Regions from separate parts of the Homo sapiens genome. Here region 1 is linked to region 2. The links come from fine-mapping of genetic effects on gene expression. Tissue or cell type: subcutaneous fat. Region 2 holds a variant in brackets; the other region holds the start of a gene. All regions are shown on one strand. Distances are between the middles of the regions.

Evidence for each region. PIP is the estimated chance that this variant, and not a neighbour inherited with it, causes the effect.
Region 1: it holds the start of RMI2, and the variant in region 2 is fine-mapped to the expression of RMI2 in subcutaneous fat (FUSION, PIP 0.95).

The regions. Positions count from the first base shown.
Region 1 is chr16:11,343,779-11,347,907 of GRCh38, reverse strand. It overlaps RMI2 (RecQ mediated genome instability 2), which reads right to left and starts at 2,449. Exons shown (of 2, transcript NM_152308.3): 1 at 2,142-2,449. The coding sequence starts at 2,436. All of the region lies in intron 1 of LOC105371082 (a long non-coding RNA gene), which reads right to left. LOC105371083 (a long non-coding RNA gene) reads left to right here and starts at 2,696. Exons shown (of 2, transcript NR_135174.1): 1 at 2,696-2,795. RefSeq lists silencers at 2,121-2,200, 2,221-2,380.
Region 2 is chr16:10,594,055-10,598,371 of GRCh38, reverse strand. No RefSeq gene overlaps it. Among named protein-coding and RNA genes, the nearest start is that of EMP2, 16 kb to the right of the region's middle. RefSeq lists enhancers at 846-1,140, 3,567-4,083. The variant G/C (reference allele first, on the strand shown) is at 2,451.

The DNA.
Region 1 (4,129 bases), 750 kb before region 2:
TCGGGAGGCTGAGGCATGAGAATCGCTTGAACCCAGGAGGTGGAGGTTGCAGCAAGCCATGACTGCGTCACTGTACTCCAGCCTGAGAGACAGAGCGAGATTCTGTCTCAAAAATAATAATAGTAATACATAAAAATTTTAAAAGCATTTTTAGTTCGCAGGACACATGAAAAGAGGAGGCCTGTAGTTTGCTGACCCTGTCCTAGACCAACGCTGCGGCTGAGGGCAGGCAGACAGAGGGAAGGCTGATGGGTAAGGCAGTGGGAAGACGGAACAGGAGCATGTGGCAGTAAACGAGTCCTGATATTTTGCATCCTCACTGTGAGCCAGGTGCAGTACTAAGGCAGTTGTTTACTTATTGAATCCACACAACACGCAGGAATGATTAGCTCCTTTTTACAAAATAGTACAAGTCCAGAAAAGTTAACAAGAGTGCTCCAGGCAGCTCAGTTGGGAAGGGGTGGAACCAGAAATTCGACCTAAGCCTTTCCGAGTCCACAGCAGCTCAGGCCAGACCACAGCCCTATCTGCCTCTAGTTAGACTCCAAGACTGAGCAGGAAGGGCCCTTAGGAATGAAGTGATCTTGGCCTGATTTCCCAGGAGAGGGAGCTGAGGTGAGGGAAGGCCCATGGAGCCTCAGAGCTCCTCAGCTTAGACCTCACATCCTCTAGAAGCCTCCCCGGGCCACTCAGCACCTTGCACATCCTCATGGCTCCCCAAAGATCAGCGATCCTCTGCGACACTTGCTCACTGCCTGTCTCCCAGCAGACTCTATCTAGGTCTCGGCTGCAGCCCAACACTGCACATGAGGGGCTGATGTACAACACGTGCTCAACTGACATCCCAGGGAACAAGTGAGATGGATGCCCATTGCCTATCACTCAAGACTATTGGTTCTTGGAGCACTTATGTGTCAGGAACTGGGCCAGATGCTGAGGATACAGTTGTCAGGACCACACAGCTCTGGCCCTCCAGTAGCTTGGGCTGGCCCAGTGGTTCTCAAAGTATGGCCCCCAAACCAGGCGTGGTGGTACAGGCCTGTAGTCCCAGCTACCCAAGGAGGCTGACGCAGGAGGATTGCTTGAGCTCAGGGCCAGCCTGGGCAACACGGTGAGTCCCCTATCTCAAATAAATAAAACATTTAAAAAGTCGAAAGTATGGTCCCCAGACCAGCAGCATCAGCATCACCTGGGAGCTGGTTAGAAATGCAAATTTCCAGCCCCACCTGGACCTCCTGACTCACAAACCCTGAGGGTGGAGCCCCAGCCATCCCAGCTTTACCAAGCCCTCCAGGAGAGACTGATGCTGGCTCAAGTTTGAGCATCAGTGGTTTAAGAGAGGAAGCAGGCAGGGCGCAGCGGCTCATGTCTGTAATCCCAGCACTTTGGGAGGCCGAGATGAGCAGATCACTTGAGGCCAGGAGTTCGAGACCAGCCTGGCCAACATGGCAAAACCCAGTCTCTGCTAAAAAATACAAAAATTAGCCGGGTGTGGTGGCACATGCCTGTAATCCCAGCTACTCGGGAGGCTGAAGCATGAGAATCGCTTGAATTCGGGAGGTGGAGGCTGCAGTAAGCTGAGGTCGCGCCACTGCACCCCATCCTGGGCGACAGAGTGAGACTCCGTCTCAAAAAAAAAAAAAAAAAAAAAAGAGAGGAGGCAAACATGAGTGAGCTACAGCCCAAGACAGTTCAATTAAGGAGAAGTACAGGAGGGTCTCCCGTTCCTAGGGGCTAGGGAGGACTTCCCTGAGAAAGGCACATTTGAGCTGAGACGTTAAGGATGAGCAGAAGTTTCCCAGGACAGTATTTCCCAAAACAAGGATATCAACTGGGAGAGGGGGCTTGTGACAAACGAAGGTGCCGGAGTCCCTCCCCAGAAGATTCCCACTAGGGGTGGGAGAGTCCCAGGAATCTGTATTTGTAAAAGGGACGGCAGGTGATGCTTATCATCAGATCAACTTCACCAAGGAGGGACCGGAGCAAGGGTACCCAAGCGGGGACCCGCAGGGGCAGAGGCCCGGAGGAGGGCCAGACCCGCCCCGCCCCCGTTCGAGTGTCAACAACAAGATCGAATCTGGCCTCGGCAACTTCTCGGCGGGCAGCAGGGAAGAGGGCGCCCGGTAAGGCCCGGGCATTACCTGGGACTAGACAGGGCCGCCCGCGCGGCACCCGCTCCAGGCCGCGGACCGAGAAGTCCCCGCTCGGGTCCCTCAGCCGAGCCTCGCCGCGGTCCGCCATCACTACCCTGCCCTGCATCCACACGGCCGCCAGGTCCAGCGGCCCGCGGCCCGCCGCCGCCCGTGACAGCCGCCACGCGCCCGGGCCGCCCTCCGCGTCGCGCCGCAGCTGCTCCGCCAGCACCTTGAGTGGCGGCGACCTCGGAAGCCGCACCCCCGCGGGGCCGCCTGAGAACGAGTCCGCAGCCGCCGCCATTCCGCCTCGCCGCACCCTTCCGCCCCGCCTCCGCTTTCCCGCCAACTTTGAGAAGCAGCGGGGCCCGGCCCTCAGCCACCAATCAGGAGCGCGCTGGCAGAGCCGGCCAATGGTCGACGTCAGAAGGCGGGACCGCCGGGCGAAGAGGCCCTCTCTAGCAGCCAGGAGTGCGCATGCGTAGATAAAAGTAAATAAACGCCCTCAAGTTAGGAATGAACGGAGGAAATGGGTTAAACGAGAATAAATAATTGAAGGCAGAGAGGTAAAGAACTTCCTCTTTCAACGCATCTCAAAATTTGGCGTGGATGCAGATCACCTACAGAGTATGATTATTCATCTTTACATTGCCTTGTTTTGAGGTTAGTAAATACTGAAACGAATTAAGAGTCCGTGTTTATTGGGAGTGAGCAAGAATCCAGTCAGGAGATAAGGCTGGGGAGGGAGACGGGGAGAGCTGGCAAACTTGCCTTTTCTTTTATTATTATTTTCAGTTATATTTTAATAGCATCAAATAATTTTAAGGTTAATAAAATATATTGCTATTTTTCAGACAAGAAATGCACATTTATTGTAAAAAAAATAGGGGAAAAATGTAGAACAAGAAAATAATTGTAAAAGCCGCTTATAGATACCCACTGTTAATTTTGGGGTATATTAGCCTTTAGGCTTTAAAATATGTGTGTGTATTTTTTTTGAGACAGGGTCTCACTCTGTTGCCCAGGATGGAGTGCAGTGGCACAGTGACGGCTCACTACAACGTTCACCTCCCGGGCATAGGTGATTCTCCTACCTCAGCCTCCCAAGTATCTCGGACTACAGGCGTGCACCACCACGTCCAGCTAATTTTTGTATTTTTTGTAGAGACAGGGTCTTACCATGTTGCCCAAGGTGGTCTGGAACTCCTGGGATCACGCAATCCTGCCTCCTTGGCCTCCCAAAGTGCTGGGATTACAGGCGTGAGCCACCATGCCTGGCCTATTACTGATATACAAATAGTGTTTTGTATATTGTTTTCACTTAATAATGAACATCTTTCTGTATCAGCAAATATCCATCTGCTTCCTCTTGAATGACTGCATAATACTCGATTTGTCTTATCACATATTAAACCAATATCCTACAGTTGGACATTAAGGCTATTTCCAATTTTTCACTTTATAAATATATCCACTGTGGACCTACTTAAAAGATAAATCTTTTTTATTTATTTATTTATTTATTTTTTTGAGACGGAGTCTCACTCTGTCACCCAGGCTGGAGTGCAGTGGCGCCATCTGGGCTCACTACAAGCTCCGCCTCCCAGGTTCCCGCCATTCTCCTGCCTCAGCCTCCCGAGTAGCTGAGACTACAGGTGCCTGCCACCACGCCCAGCTAATTTTTTGTACTTTGTTTTAGTAGAGACGAGGTTTCACCGTGTTAGCCAGGATGGTCTCGATCTCCTGACCTCGTGATCCACCCGTAAAAGCTAAATCTTTTTGTGCATCCTTCAAATAAAATTCCCAGGAATCTCTCCCTAAAAATTGGATGTCCCCAGTCAGCAAAGTCCACAGATCCTAAATCAGGCAATCCTTAAAGTCAAGGTCAGTTCTTAAGAGAAACTTTGAGTTCCCAGGGCCTCCTGCAGTACCAGGCATTCAGAGAGTATTCAGCAAGAGCTTGATTTTTTTTTTTTTTTTTTTTTGAGACGGAGTCT
Region 2 (4,317 bases):
TTTGGGGAGGTTATCGGTGTGCAGCCCAGGGTGGGCAGGGCCGGATTTCTGCCCTGGGCACTCCCCGGAGGTTGGAAAGAGGCCAGAGCCAGGGCCCTAGCAGGGCTGCTGGAACAAGACTGATTCCTGGCTGGGTGCAGTGGTTCACGCCTGTAATCCCAGCACCTTGGGAGGCTTAGGCAGGTGGATCACTTGAGGTCAGGAGTTCAAGACCTGCCTGGCCAATGTGGTGAAACCCTGTCTCTACTAAAAACATAAAAATTAGCCTAGTGTGGTGACGGGTGCCCGTAATCCCAGGTACTCAGGAGGCTGAGGCAGGAGAATCGCTTGAGCCCAGGAGGCGAAGGTTGCAGTGAGCTGAGATTGCACCACTGCACTCCAGCCTGGGCGACAGAGCAAGACTCCGTCTCATAAAAAAAAAAAAAGGATTGATCCTGGAGCAGGTTCCAGGCAGGGACACACCTCCAGTTCTCTGCCCAGGGCACCCCAGGTTGTATGGAGTTATCCTCTTTCATTCGTGGAGTGATGAAGCCTCACAAGCAGGGACCACCTGCAGGTTGTGAGCAGTGCTCTTTGATGAGGTGCCCCAGGTGCCTGGCTAAGTGCTCTGTAGGGACCCAAGGATATGTCTCACCATTTCTCAACAGCCTCATGACTGGTCTCTCCTTTTCTAATCTTGTCCCCTCCAATCCATTTCTCCCACAGTAGCCAGAAAACATGAATTGGCTCATTCACTCCACTGCTTCAGCTGTTCACAGGCTTCCACCATCCTTAGGATCAAATTCAAATTCCTACCATGGTCAAGGAGAGCTGCTTAATGTGGCCCCTGCCTGCCTCTCTGGTTTCTCCTTATCTCTCATTCCCCCAACTCATTCCAGCCATAGCAACTTCCTCCTTTCCATCACACGCACGTGACTCTTCCCTACCCCAGGGACTTTGCACCTGCTGTTTATGTCCTCTACAAGAAGTTTTTGTTCCATGGCTGGTTACTCTTCTAGTCTAACTGTCACCCTTCAGAGAGATCTTCCCAGATCACTGCCTCAACAGCGCCCTCACCACTCTCTCTCTGTCACCCTGTTTCATTTCTTCCTAGCACTTGTCATACTGAAAGTGTCTTGTTTTCTTGCTTATTGACTGATTGATTTTTCCCCCCATGGTCTATCTCTACCCCTAGAGAGGGTGGGGACCTTGTCTGGCCTGTTCACTGTGAGTGCCTGGGCCTGGCAAATGCCCAAAAGGTGTTAGTTGAATGAAGGAACAAAAGAAATTCACAAAGAGTTTCAAAGCATGAAGTGTGTGCAAGTCATTGTAGGGGCTTACAAATTACACATCACCACTCTGAAGGTAATATACCCGAAGGGTTATTCTAAGTGCTTTGCGTATTCGAACTCAACCTTTCCGCAGTCCTAGGAGGTAGGGAGTAGTAGTAGTAGTAGTCCCATTTTACAGATGAGAAAATGAAGGCACGGAGAGGTTAAATGACTGTGTAATGTCACACAGTCAGTCAAACCCAGGCATAGCCAGCTCCATAAGCTGTAGTATGTCTATGGGGAAACATGACGTGTGATGCAAACTTCTTAGCTGGGTTGCACAAGGAAAAGAAAAACCATCTCCTTACATTGTGGCCACACCCACATGGGTGAAATGAAGCTGCTGAAGGTGGGAGCGGGGGACAAGGAATTCCTTCAGGAATCCTAAAAGAAGCAGCAGAATTCCATGGTGGGTAAATCAGAAGCACAAAGTTCTAGGACCCATGGCTTCTCACCACGCCAGACTGTTTCCCCATCTCCAAAGTGCAACAGTGACACGATGGTCCTGGGCATTTCTCTCAGTTTTATGATTCTATTAAGTGACAAATGGGTGCCACCCAGTATCCCAGAAACTCCTGGGGTGGGTAGGAAATGGTGGCGAGTGGGGCTCAGACAGCAGAGAAAGGCATCAAAATCTAGGTCGGAAGTGGGAGTCAGGTGGAAAGGAGCGCACAGCTGTGGCTTCTGTTTGCCCAGTGCCCAGTCCTCCTTTCTCTGCTAGCTGCATGCATTCCCTTTTGGGAACTACCCTTTGGCCATGCTGTACAGATCTGGGGGATGGGGGTGTCTAATAAGGGGTTCTGGCTTCCCCATGGCCATGGGGGTGGACATATAACCCAAGCTAAGCCGATCAGATCCTCTCTCCAAATAGGAGTCCCAGCCCCAGGGAACCAGGGGTGGGGGAGGAAGGTGGTACCCACTTCTAGGCTCCTCCCAAGTCATGCAAGATCTTGTATCTCCTGTGGCTGGGGAGGCTCTTGCTGCACGCAGAATCCTCAGAGGGCTCCCCACAGGCTCCCGCCCCAGCCTTTCCCTCTGACCTCATTCCTGCCACTTTCCCCATCGTGCGCCATGTTTCAGCAACACGGTCACTGATTATGCCTCAGACAGGGCAAGCTCCTAGTCACCCCAGGGCACTTG[G/C]ACTTGCTGCTTCCTCGCTCAGAACATTCAGCGGCAGACCTTCCTTCTCACGGTGGTTCTTTCTGGTTGTTTCAGCCTTTATCCGCGGTGTCCTCAGGCCCTGCCCTGCCCCTGTGGTCAGTGTCTACCACGTCCTCCAGCTATATTTTCCTCAGGGCACATATCGTGAGCTGAGGTTGCTTGGCTGCCTTATATGTTGATTTGCTTTTGTCGGCCTCCCGTTTGGTGTAAGCCCCTTCTCTGAGTGTTGCGCCTCCTCCTACCTTCCTGGGCCAGGCAGAGCCCCTGGAACTTGGCCAGCGTTTCAAAAAAATGATATTTGAGGCTGAGCACTGTGGCTTATGCCTGTAATCTCAGCACTTTGGGAGGCCGAGGCAGGTGGATCACTTGAGACCAGGAGTTTGAGACCAGCGTGGCCAACATGGTGAAACCCCATCTCTACTAAAAATACAAAAATTAGCCGGGCATGGTGGTGGCAGGCTCCTGTAGTCTCAGCTACTCAGGAGGCTGAGGCAGGAGAATCACTTGAACCTGGGAGGCAAAGGTTGTAGTGAGCCGAGATGGCACCATTGCACTCCAGCCTGGGCAACAGAGTGAGACTCTGTCTCAAAAAAATAAAAATACAAAATTTTAAAATACAAAATTTAAAAATATTTGAATAAAAGAATAAATTAATTAAGGGGGCAGTGGAGTGTGTGTAATGCCAAGTAATCCTCTATAGAATACTTCAGAGAGTTACAATGAGGGAATTCTTTGTCCTGTTTTCAAATGGGAAAACTGAGGCCAGGCAAGAGACAAGGAAGTCATATCAGAACGCCAACCTGGCCTTCCATCCCCTTGGGAAGAACTTCTCCAACCTCCCTCCATACAGGAATACTTGGGCTTCAGAATCACTTCCCACAAAGGGGAGCCCGGCACCCAGGGCCAGGGAATCCCCAGCAGTGATCTTCCCTGAGCTTCCAGGAAACGATCTGTTTCTCTTCTTTGTGAGACACACAAAGCGTTCTCATGGAGGAGGGGCATGTGCACGGAGGAGCCCTTGAACACCTGGACCTGGGGCACCTGGGAGGTGGGAGGATGGGAGGAACCCAGCAGCCGAGGACAGGTGGCAGACAAGCTGGGTCATGCTGTGCGCCCGTCCAAACGGATCCGCCTGGCATGTGGGTGGTGTGGCCCAACTGGTTGGGTGAGTGTAGGGTGTGGGCTGGTGAGGGTGCCAGCCAGTGAACTGTGACACTCCTGCCCTGCAGATGGGGAGGCACCTGGTCTCCCTTCCTCAGAACAGCCCCAGTCTGCACTGACTCTGGGTTTGAGACCATCAACTGAAAGGACCCAGAGGTTCCCTGGCATCCTTCCAGGAACGAGGATGTGCTGGGCACAAGGTCACTTGAGTCAGGCTTCCTGAGAGCATCTCACCTCCTGGTGGAGGGAAAGGAGGAAGTATTCCGGGGCTGGAAATGAAATGGAGATTGGGTCAAGATAAATGCATGAAGAGGCCACTAAGGAGAGAAAGCTTGAGGGGGACACAAGACAGTTGAGTGTGGTCATTAAGAATTTGGAGATCCTTGGATATTCCAATTATCCTGATTTGATTATATGAATGTATCAAATTATTACATGTACCCTAAAAATATGTATATCTAATATATCACTAAAAATAAATACATGAACTTAAATGAAAAAAATAATTTTGGCCATGCATGGTGGCTCAAGCCTGTATTCCCAGCACTTTGGGAGGCCAAGGTGGGAGGATCACTTGAGCCCAGGAGTTCAAGACCAGTCTGGGCAACATAGTGAGACCCTGTCTCTAAAAATAGTAGCAATAATAATATTTTTTTTTAAAAGAATTTGGAGGCCGGGCACGGTG